3 linked regions of the Homo sapiens genome follow. The protein of the gene in region 2 purifies or fractionates together with the protein of the main gene of each other region. This does not show direct contact. Each region holds a gene or a part of one and is shown on either strand. Other genes may lie near its edges. The genes, in order: MX2, NUP214 and RANGAP1.

The links.
Region 1: the proteins of NUP214 (region 2) and MX2 purify together in Homo sapiens (affinity purification with mass spectrometry, with the first as the bait; one large-scale study listed by BioGRID). This does not show direct contact.
Region 3: the proteins of NUP214 (region 2) and RANGAP1 purify together in Homo sapiens (affinity purification with mass spectrometry, with the first as the bait; one large-scale study listed by BioGRID). This does not show direct contact.

Annotation. Positions count from the first base shown.
Region 1 is NC_000021.9:41,396,403-41,400,053, forward strand, and holds part of MX2 (interferon-induced GTP-binding protein Mx2), read left to right. Parts: intron 1-1,210; coding exon 1,211-1,289; intron 1,290-2,494; coding exon 2,495-2,617; intron 2,618-2,793; coding exon 2,794-2,935; intron 2,936-3,651.
Region 2 is NC_000009.12:131,191,577-131,195,227, forward strand, and holds part of NUP214 (nuclear pore complex protein Nup214), read left to right. Parts: intron 1-631; coding exon 632-716; intron 717-3,651. UniProt on the Homo sapiens protein: Part of the nuclear pore complex. Has a critical role in nucleocytoplasmic transport.
Region 3 is NC_000022.11:41,258,632-41,262,282, reverse strand, and holds part of RANGAP1 (ran GTPase-activating protein 1), read left to right. Parts: intron 1-702; coding exon 703-837; intron 838-3,651. UniProt on the Homo sapiens protein: GTPase activator for RAN. Converts cytoplasmic GTP-bound RAN to GDP-bound RAN, which is essential for RAN-mediated nuclear import and export. Mediates dissociation of cargo from nuclear export complexes containing XPO1, RAN and RANBP2 after nuclear export.

The sequences.
Region 1 (3,651 bases), on a different chromosome or scaffold from region 2:
TCCCCTTCATTCTGGAACTTGTTGTTCCTGAATGATCCAGGAGCACAGAGGTCACTCCTGCTTGAAGGAGAGCTAATGGGAAAACTGAATTTGGGCCGAGTAGGTCTACGGCTTGCTGACTATGTGATCTTACAATATGGGCCACCTTCTCGGAATTTTGCCTTTCCCATCTTCTCCAGGGGATCCTACTACTGCCTCACAAGATTGTGGTTAGGATTACGTAACACGACATACACAAAGGTCTTGAGCGCCAACAGCCAGCACTCAGTAAACACCACCCGGTTCCTTCTTTCTTCCTCTCTGCTCCTGCTCTGAGTGGATGAAACATACTGTTTCCAATAGCACTGGAGGACATGAGGAGAAGAAAACTCTCCTCCTTGAGCTGGGAGAAGATTTCAAAATAATCAGGCCCATGGTTCTCCATGCTGAGTGAGCAGCAGACTCTCTGGAGAGTTCCTTAAAATTGTGCTAGCTCTGTCCTGCTCTGCCCTGAGGCCGGGGGAGGTGCCCAAGACTTCCTGCTTCTAACAGGTTCCTCCTGGTTGAGGCTAATGTTGCCAGTCCAGGGACCTCCCTTTGCAAACCGCTTCTCAAGGTCTTTGGGAAATCTGAAATCCTTGCATGCCTGCTTGCTGGGAGCCGTCCCTTGCAGTAAGAGGCACTGGCAGTGCTGGGGAATAATCCTGTGTGCTTCATCCTAAATTCCTGCTATTGGCAAACATGCTGCAGCCACGCTGCCTGCTGTGTGGCTGCAGCAAGCAAATGCAGCAAGCTGCTTAACCTTTCTGTGTCTCAGCCTTTCTTGCTCTAAAGTGGGTTGTTAAATGACTAAATGTGTTAATATTTATAAAGCCCTTAGATTGGTGCCTGGCACTTAGTAAGCACCATATATACTTTTGTGATGAGAAATAAAATACTAATCTGGGCAACTCACTTAATCTCCATGAGGCTGGGTTTGTTTTCCTGTAGCTAAGATGACCTACCTCATGAGTTTGTGGGGATGATAGAAAGGGAGGAGGGAAGGAAGCTTCCTGGCCCACAGTTGCCTGGGTGCAGGCTGGTGGCAAGTGTCTTTCTTATGCACCACTTGGCTTTTCTGATGGCACGTGTTGCCCCGGGGAGCTGGGCTCACCTACCACGCACAAAGTCCGGTACTAGCAAGATGGTACACAAGTCCTTCCTGAATGCATGAATGTCTGTCTCATTTCAGAGTTCTCCTGGAGGAGGGGTCAGCCACGGTTCCCCGACTGGCAGAAAGACTTACCACTGAACTCATCATGCATATCCAAGTGAGCCACGTGGGTTGGGTGACAAGTCATCAATACAGCATGCCCAAGTCACTCTCTTGGTCTGGAGTTGGCTAAGATGCCCCACTGATCTGTCCAAACAAGCAAACAAGTACCCTCTGAACACTGTCTCACTCACTGTCACAGGCTCACTGGAAGAACTTCCAAATTGGGGAAGCAACAAGTACATAGTATTAAAACAAATGTTTGAATTGGTCAACAGGGGGGAAAAAGAAGAGAAGGAAACAGTTTAGCAATATAAAAAGGAGTGACCACTGAGAGAGCAAGTTTTCTTTTTTCAATATGTTGTTAATACTTCCTGGTATAAAAAATTTTTCTTGCCAGGCATGGTGGCTCATGCCTGTAATCCCAGCACTTTGGGAGGCTAAAGCCAGTGGATCACCTGAGGTCAAGAATTCGAGACCAGCCTGACCAACATGGAGAAATTCCATCTCTACTAAAAATACAAAATTAGCTGGGCATGGTGGCACATGCCTGTAATCCCAGCTACTGGGGAGGCTGAGGCAGGAGAATCGCTTGAACCCGGAAGGTGGAGGTTGTGGTGAGCCAAGATCGTGCCATTGCACTCCAGCCTGGGCAACAACAGCAAAATTCCATCTAAAAAAAAAAAATTTCTTCTAGCCTCAAACTTCTAAGAAATAATTGGTTTGTAAGAAATAAGTCCATTTTTATGGATTCTCAAAAGCAGACAACTACAGACAAGGGCCTCATGACATCATCGATTATAGAAAAACTTTGGTTTGGCGGTTATTGAGAAATCGAATATTTTTAGTGCTTGCCTAAACCTTCACAAATGAGGCCAAGCAACATGGGAAGATTTAAATGTACCCTTAGAGCAAAGATGATTCCAGATCCTAGGACTTGGCCCATGCTAAATTGTATATCAGACAAAAGCAATGACTTACTTGAGCCAGGAAGCACATACTCAAAGAAAATTTGGTTTGAAGGAGCCAGTGGTTCTCCAACTTTAAGGCACACAAGAATTACCTGGAAAGTTTGTTACAATTAGATTCCACCAGTCAAGGTGGCCTACACATGTAATCCCAGCACTTTGGGAGGCTGGGGCAGGTGGGTCAAAAATTCCAGATCTTCCTGGATGCTTTAAAGGGCTCCTACTCATATACCAAAGAAATCAGTTGGCCAATCTCTTAAGCCGCAGTTTGATTGTTTGCAATTGTTTTGTTTAGAAATCGCTCCCGTTGTTAGAAGGACAAATAAGGGAGAGCCACCAGAAGGCGACCGAGGAGCTGCGGCGTTGCGGGGCTGACATCCCCAGCCAGGAGGCCGACAAGATGTTCTTTCTAATTGAGGTGAGGATTTCCGCAGGACTCCACGTGACACTGCATCCTTCCCTGGTGGCCCTGCAGCTGCCCTTCCCCTTCTTCACCCATGAGATGAGGTGGGCGGGTGGACATCTCCTTGCAACGCCGGTCCCAGTTCTTTCATATGATTTCCGCAAAGACTATTGACTTTATATCATTTTCAGAAAATCAAGATGTTTAATCAGGACATCGAAAAGTTAGTAGAAGGAGAAGAAGTTGTAAGGGAGAATGAGACCCGTTTATACAACAAAATCAGAGAGGATTTTAAAAACTGGGTAGGCATACTTGCAACTAATACCCAAAAAGGTAAGTTCTGGGCAGGGCTCCCTGCAAAACAGGGTGGTATTTACCCAGACCAGAGGCTATGTCCAGCACATGATAAGTGTGCCAAGAGTGGAACACGTCCATCCAAGACCGTGGAACCCTTGGTAATCAGCAACTGTCTCTCAACGAACAAAACCCAGAAATATGGGGCATCGACCTCAGCAACTCAACACAGGGCAATTCCACTGCCTCTGATGTCCTCGTGTCTTGATTTTGTTTTGTTTTGTTGAGACAGGGTCTCCCTCTGTTGCCTAGGCTGGAGTGTAGTGGCGCAATCATGACTCACTGCAGCCTCAACCTCCCAGGCTCAAGTGATCCTCCCACCTCAGCCTCCTGAGTAGTTGGGACCACAGGCATGAACCACCATACCCAGATAATTTTTGTACTTTTTTGTAGAGATAGGTTTTCACCACCATTGCTCAGGCTGCTCTTGAACTCCTAGGCTAAAGCAATCCACCTGCCTCAGCCTCCCAAAGTGCTGGGATTATAGATGTGAGCCACTGTGCCTGGCCTTGCTTCTTGGTTTTGAGGCTAAATGGCATTCCATGCCCACCTGAGGAATTCGCAGAGCAGCCCAGGGTACCTCAGGGCTGCTATCCTGAGTGCCTGGAGGGAAGCCTGTGCCCAAAGCAGGGGTCCAGATGACTCTGGGGGCCAGCCCCACATGAAGGCTCTCCAGCCACTGTTGAATTGAGTGC
Region 2 (3,651 bases):
CACTTTTAACCTTTTTGCATGTCTCCATATTATAGCAATCATGTTTTACATCTGTAATTTTAAAAAAAGAACACGATTATTTGTTAAATGCCAACAAAATCTGTGGAAAATGCAGAAATGTATATAGAAGTAAACAGCCTTAAAGTCACTACTCAGAAATATTTAGCTTATGAACCTATTTCTCTTTTGGATTTTTGTCCTTCAGCATAGATTAATTTCAAATAATTATAAAGCTACATTATATATAGTTTTATTTACTTTTGTGGGGAGGGGGCTTAGCCTCACATTATAAGCATTTTCCCATACCATTGAAATATATAAGAGTGTACTTTTAAAACTGTACATTTAAACTATACTAGAATTATTTTGATATATTTTCTGTAAAGGAGAAGATGGCACACCTTAGACTGGAATTAACATTGACAGAGCCACGGAGCAATTTCAGAGACCTCAAACACAAGTGAGGCAACGTGCTCACTCCCCATGGCCACTGACGTGTCACAGAAGGCACATGTGGTGCTAAGCAGCACCTCACAGGCTGAGCTACAGGGAATTATACACTGGAACAGTGTTTCTGTCTTTTTGTAATATTCTTTTTTTTTTTTTTTTTTTTTTTTTTCCATAATTTCAGGGACAGCCAAGATAGAAACAGCTGTGACTTCAACCCCATCTGCTTCTGGGCAGTTCAGCAAGCCTTTCTCATTTTCTCCATCAGGGTCAGTAATGAACTTAAGTTTTATGGCAAATTACTAGCAATTAGCTTCCCCAAATCTTACAATTATAGATATATTTATTTACTTATTAAATGTGTATGAACCCAGAGTTCTTACCGTGGCAGTAATACATGTGATGATAGTGGCAATAGTTTAATGTTCTCATGTAAATCGATTTTCCCTTTGCAATTCAAGTTAATACTTGTTTGTTACATATTTGTGTATCTGTTTTGTTTTTTAGCCTAAGCCTCATTTTCTTTGAGTAATGAGTCTGCTAAATTCTGTAGTTCATCTAGTTTGTCACACTGAGATGTTTCCATTCTGACACCATTTTGGGGGCTAGATGTGACATTCAAATTGACTTTGCTGGACAAACATGGTGGCTCATGCCTATAATCCTAGTGCTTTGGGAGGCCAAGGTGGGAGGGATTGCTTGAGGCCAGGAGTTGGAGACTGACCTGGGCAACATAGTGAGACCTCATCTCTACAAAAAATTGAAAAATTAACCAGGTACGTTGGTTCACTTCTATAGTCCCAGCCACTTGGGAGGCTGAGGTGGGAGGATCCCTTGAGCCCGGGAGTTCGAGGTTACAGTGAGCTATGATCACACCATTGTACTCCAGCCTGGGCAACAGAGTGAAACCCCGTCTCCAAAAAAAAAAAAAAAAAAAAAAAAAAAGGCTTACTGCATCGAGAGTACAGTATACTAAACTTAGAGAATGTAATGAAAGATAATAGGCATTTGAAATTTGAGGTTTTATATAGATGTGGAGGAATCTGTTTCCGTTTCTTTAAAAAATAATAATAATAATGATGGCTGTACTTGTAAAGTTGAGTTGTTTTTAAAAATGAAAGAATCTTCTATACCTTATCTCAAGATGAGCCTTTGTTAAGGTGCCTGTTCTCTGTGCCCTGAGCGCTCATGTTGAAACCTGTGTGAGCTGCTGAAGCATTGGGTTAGACTCTGTGGAACTGAGATCAAAATGTGTCAAAAGGATTTTTTGCCATTGAAGCATTGTGCATTCAGTTCCTTAGAAAAGCCTCTTAAGTTCTTCAGTTTATGCTTTTGTAACTAGGAGCATATTAACCAGTCTCTTTTTCCTGATTTTAATATATTTTTTGAGTGTCCTTCAGCCTAAGGAGAAAAGAGGGTATTAGAATATTATTTGAGGGGGAAAGTAATACATATATTTTTTCTTTATTATAAATCATTATGTTTTATGCTTCCCAAAGGTAATTTGCAGCAAATTTTAAAGAGTAGGTCAATGCCAAGAATTATTGCATCCTTTACAGATGGCTAATAATCAGTCTTCTGTGAAATGATATTCTTCTTCCTTTTCTTTTTTTTTTTTTTTTTTTTTTTTTTTTTTTTTGGATTTTCAGGCAGAGTATCACTCCGTCACCCTGGTTGGAGCGCAGTGGTGAGATCTCAGCTCACTGCAATCTTCACCTCCCGGGTTCAAGTGATTCTCTTGCCCTAGCCTCCCAAGTAGCTGGGATCACAGGTGTGCACCACCACACCCAGCTAATTTTTGTATTTTAGTAGAGATGGGGTTTTTTCATGTTGCCCAGGCTGGTCTTGAACTCCTGGCCTCAAGTGATCCACCCGCCTTAGCCTCCCAAAGTGCTGGGATTGTAGGCACGAGCCACTGCACCTGGCCCTCTTCCCATTTTTAAAATAACCCAGAAAAGGTGGGGTCATTGAATCAATGGCTTGACACTATTAGATAAAATTTTTTCACTAAGAAAGGTTGTGTTTTTTTTTTTATTTTTAATATGATGGGCAAAGGTGTCTAAGTTATTACATTATTTAGTATATTTGATGTGCTTGGTTCGTTATATTTTAAAGCTAGTTTGAAATCTGCAATTTGAACTTTGCGTGTGTGTGTGTGTGAGATAGAGCAAGATTCTGTCTCAAAAAAAAAAAAAGGTGCAGTGGTACAGTCATGGCTCACTACAACCTCCACCCCCAGGACTGAAGTGATCCTCCTGCCTTAGCCCCCCGAATAACTGGGACTACAGGTGCGCGCCACCACACCTGGCTGATTTTTGTTTTTTAATTTTTCGGTTTTGGTTTTTGGGGGTTTTTGTTTTTGTTTGTTTGGTTTTTGGGTTTTTGTTTTTGTTTTGTAGAAACAGGGTTCCACCATGTTGCCTAGGCTGGTCTCAAACTCCTGGGCTCAAAGGATTAACCTGCCTCAGCCTCTCAAAATGCTGGGATGTGAGCCACCATGCCTGGCCTGAGTTTTTATCACAGTGAATAATCTGTTCTGATTCACACTCGCGTGGGATTTTCTTCCTTAGCTATGGTGTCTTCACTTACAGTGTAAAGAAAACGTACAAAAGGAGAGAGGAGATGGTGAAAGGAGTCACAAAGTTTTTGAACTAGATTTTCCTAGCCGTAAAACTCAGTTCTGTCAAAATGACTGAGTTAGGGCTTCTATTTCATTGTATCCATTGTTTTCCCTAGCAGTGTGGGGCTCTCTGACATGCTTGTTGGTCTTGGAGGGGTTCTGAGAGGCTCTCCCTAGTCTTAAGTGCTTCTGTCTTACCAGACCTTCCTTCTGTCCCCTCACTTAACAGACCATCTGCTCCGGCCACCATTCCCACATGCACATTTGTCATGTGTCTCTACTGCTGCAGCTTTGCTCATCTTGCAAGAAGTCCCCACTCAAACTTCTGCTACAGAAAGCCCAGCCATCCCCCAATGGGCTCTCAACTGCTATCCCTGTCGTATCTCACACACAAACTGCTTCTCTGCTTAGAGATCATAGAGTGGCCTTACTGCTTCTGAGATAGGTGCTTTGACTCTGTTGTCATTTATCTTCTAGATTGTAAATTCCTGAGGGCGGTTTGTATGAATGAATGATAAAATGGAATATTAAGAGGGCAATATTGTGCCTTGGTTTGTTCCTTTTTAATTTCTCTTTTTCCACTT
Region 3 (3,651 bases), on a different chromosome or scaffold from region 2:
GTCTCCGTTTTTCAGTGCTTTTCCTAATGGTGTAACCAGGGTAGAAGCTACTTCCTGGCACCACACCAGGGACAGGGCAAGCTGGGTGTTAGGTTTTTACCACCAGCAGGCAAGCTCCTGCTGTGCCTGGCCAGCTTTTAGGCACAGGCAGGTGTCAGACAGGTTCGTCTGGACCGTGGACTTGGCAGCTGGCTCCCTTGGACATTGTGGAACGTGGAAGAGAAGCTGGAAGATTTGGGCTTTGGTCCAGAGTCCACCACTTGTTTATTGACCATAAGAAAGTTTCCGTTCCTCTTACCCTGAGTTTCTTCAGCTGGAAAATGGGAGCCATGATTTTCCCACCTAGCAGAGGGCCTTAGACAGTGAAGTGAGCTGACTAGGAAGTCCTTCCCCTGGACCTGGCTAAAAGTTCATCCACTCCATGTGGTCTCTCCCTTTCCTGAGTAGGGCTTGGTCTCCCCGTCTCGAAAGTGAAGCTAAACCTCTCAGGCTGGTGTGACACAGCATTAGAGATAAAAACCTTGTGTAACTGAAGTGCTGGACATATTTAAGGTGTGACTGTTGAGCTGTTAGCAGTCCTGCGTCCCCTGACCTGCACCGATGGGTGGCGTGGGATGTTGAAGAGCAGTTCAGCAGCAGTGGCCACCCCGCTGGGAGAAGGGGCTCCTGCCCATGACCAGGGCCCCTTGCCTTTCCCCACAGATCCTGGCTGCAGCTCTGACCGAATGTCACCGGAAATCCAGTGCCCAAGGCAAGCCTCTGGCCCTGAAGGTCTTTGTGGCTGGCAGAAACCGTCTGGAGAATGATGGCGCCACTGCCTTGGCAGAAGCTTTTAGGGTGAGTGGTTTCTGTCCATCCTGCCCCTGCAGCCTTGAGGTGCACTCGGCATAGTAGGCTGACAGTTCTGGATGCTAATCCCAGGGCTGGCACTCAACCAAGAGACCTGGGGCGTCACGTGCCCTCTCCAAGCCTGTTAACCCATCCGAAAATGAGCCAGAATTCCTGTCGTGCATTTCTGGAAAGGTGTGTGACTTTCCGGAAAGGTGTGTGACTGGCTCCCACTGGTGAGCCAGCCCCTATGGGGCTTCAGGCCAGGCAGGCCACTCTGACCAAGGAGTGTCATCTGCCAGGCTCAGAAGTGGTGAAGTGAGATGGTGCGAGTGCTGACAGTAGCCTGGCCCAGCCACTGGTGTGGGGCACAGAGAAGGAACATACCAGACCTCCAAGACAGGGAGATAGGCAGGGGCAGCCGCAGGGCTCAGGTGCCAAATGACGTGCTCTCAGGTGACCTTATCCCCACTCCTCTTCCACTCTCCTCTCCCCATCCCCGCAGGACATTGCTGAGTCCCCGATCGTGAGTGCCAGCAGAAGGCTACACTTGCCCCTAACAGGACTGAAAACTTTGGGGTCTGTCTCCCTCCTCTCTTTCCTGTTTTTTTTGAGGCAGAGTCTCATTCTGTCACCCATGCTGGAGTGCAGTGCGTGATCTTGGCTCACTGCAGTCTCCGCCTCCCAGGTTCAAGCAGTTCTGCCTCAGCCTCCCGAGTAGCTGGAATTACGGGCACCCGCCACCACACCCGGCTAATTTTTGTATTTTTATTAGAGACGGGGTTTTACCATGTTGGCCAGGTGGTCTCGAACTCCTGACCTCAAGTGATCTGCCCGCCTGGGCCTCCCAAAGTGCTGGGATTACAGGCGTGAGCCACCACGTCCGGCCCCTCTTCTCTTAATTTAAATGTTTTCTTCAGCAAACAGTATCCTAGGAGCATTGCTCATACGGGCCGGAATGTCCTGGCTGCCCATCGAGGCTGTCTGTAGATACCCTTTGCCTGCTTCAGTGCCAAGTGAACATCGCAGAGATCTGCCTTGTGTCTCCCTGCACCCCTGGCTGCAGGGGAGCTCCTGCTGCCTCCTCTGGAGCTGGTGGGGGCCTCACTGCCATCCTTGGATCCCTCCCTGCCGTCAGCCTGCTGTCCTCAGTGCACTGGGAGGAGGGGGTGCGCTGTGGTTGTGTTGAGCCTTCATAGGTGTCCTCTGGTGGGCTTAGAATGGGGGTTCTTAATCCCCCCCAGTATGTGGATAGAATTCAGGGGTCTGTGAACATGGATGAGGAAAAAATAACATTATTATTTATTACTAATGTAGCTAAAATATGTAGTGTGACCTTTGATTATAAATGTAGACAATAAACCTCACAGCATTAGAAAGGCCTGTGACTACCCACATAACAAACAAGCACATGTAGTCCCTGAACCCAAAAAAAAAAAAAATTTTATTGAGGCAGGGTCTCGCTCTGTTGCCCAGGCTGGAGTACAACGGTGCAATCTCAGCCCACTGCAGTTGAAGCTTCCCAGGCTCAAGTGATCCTCCCACCTCAGCCTCCCGATTAGCTGGGACTACAGGTGTGCACCACCATGCCCACCCAGTTAATTTTTGTATTTTAGTAGAGATGGGGTTTCACCATGTTAGCCAGGCTGGTCTCAAACTCCTGACCTCAGGTAATCCACTCGCCTTGGCCTCCTAAAGTGCTGGGATTATAGGCATAAGCCACTGCGCCCAGCTTAAAATTTTTAAAAAAATAAAAAGAAAATCTTGTGACTTTATCCCCAGTGGAAATCACAGGTATTTCATATGAAGTTATAGTTACTGCTGATATATAGAAATATTTCTCACTACATCAAAATTACAGTAATAGTGGACCCACCCCTAGATCTTGTTATTTGGTGCATTAACAAGAAGTTTGTATATCACTACAGCATGCGTTTGGAGTTTTTTCCTAAATGTTTTGATAACTGTTCCAACTGAGTTGATTTCCTTTGTAATTCTGTGTAATTTATCTTAAAATTTTAAAAAAACATTTTTTGAGGAGGGGACCCAGGGGCTTCACCAGACTGCCTGAAGGGTTCATGGCACAGAAAATACTAAGAAGGCCTGACCTGGAGTGTGCCCAGGTTGGCCTTCCTGTATTTATTTGTGGACCACCCGCTCCCCCCATTGCCCTGTGCTGCACTGAGCACCTGAAGACAGCAGAAGATTCCTTGGCACAGTTAAGCCAGGCCAACCCTCAGTCCTGGGTCACAGTGGAGACTGGGACATGGCCCTCTCCTCCAAAGCTCAGGGGCCGATGGGATGCAGACGGAATATAGGCTTTGAATGTAGGCAGGATGAGGACCACCGTGATAGAGGAGGGACCAGGTGCTCCGGGAGCACAGAGGAACGCACACTGGATCGTGGCTGGGGGAATCCAGGAAGCCTTCCTGGGAGAGGAGGTGACCAAAACAAGAGCCCTAGAACTCATATGAGTTAGCCTGTCAAGAAAATGCTGAATGGCTGGGTGTGGTATCTCACGTCTGTAATCCCAGCACTTTGAGAGGCCGAGGAAGCTGGATCGCCTGAGGTCAGGAGTTCAAGACCAGCCTGGCCAACATGGTGAAACCTCCATCTCTACTAAAAATACAAAATTAGTCGGGTGTGGTGGCGCACGCCTGTAATCTCAGCTACTCAGGAGGCTGAGGCAGGAGAATCACTTGAACCTGGGAGGCAGAGGTTGCGATGAGCCAAGATCATGCCATCACACTCCAGCCTGGGCGACGGAACGAGACTCCGTCTCAAAAAAGGAAAAAAAAAGAAAAAAGAAAAAGAAAATAAGGA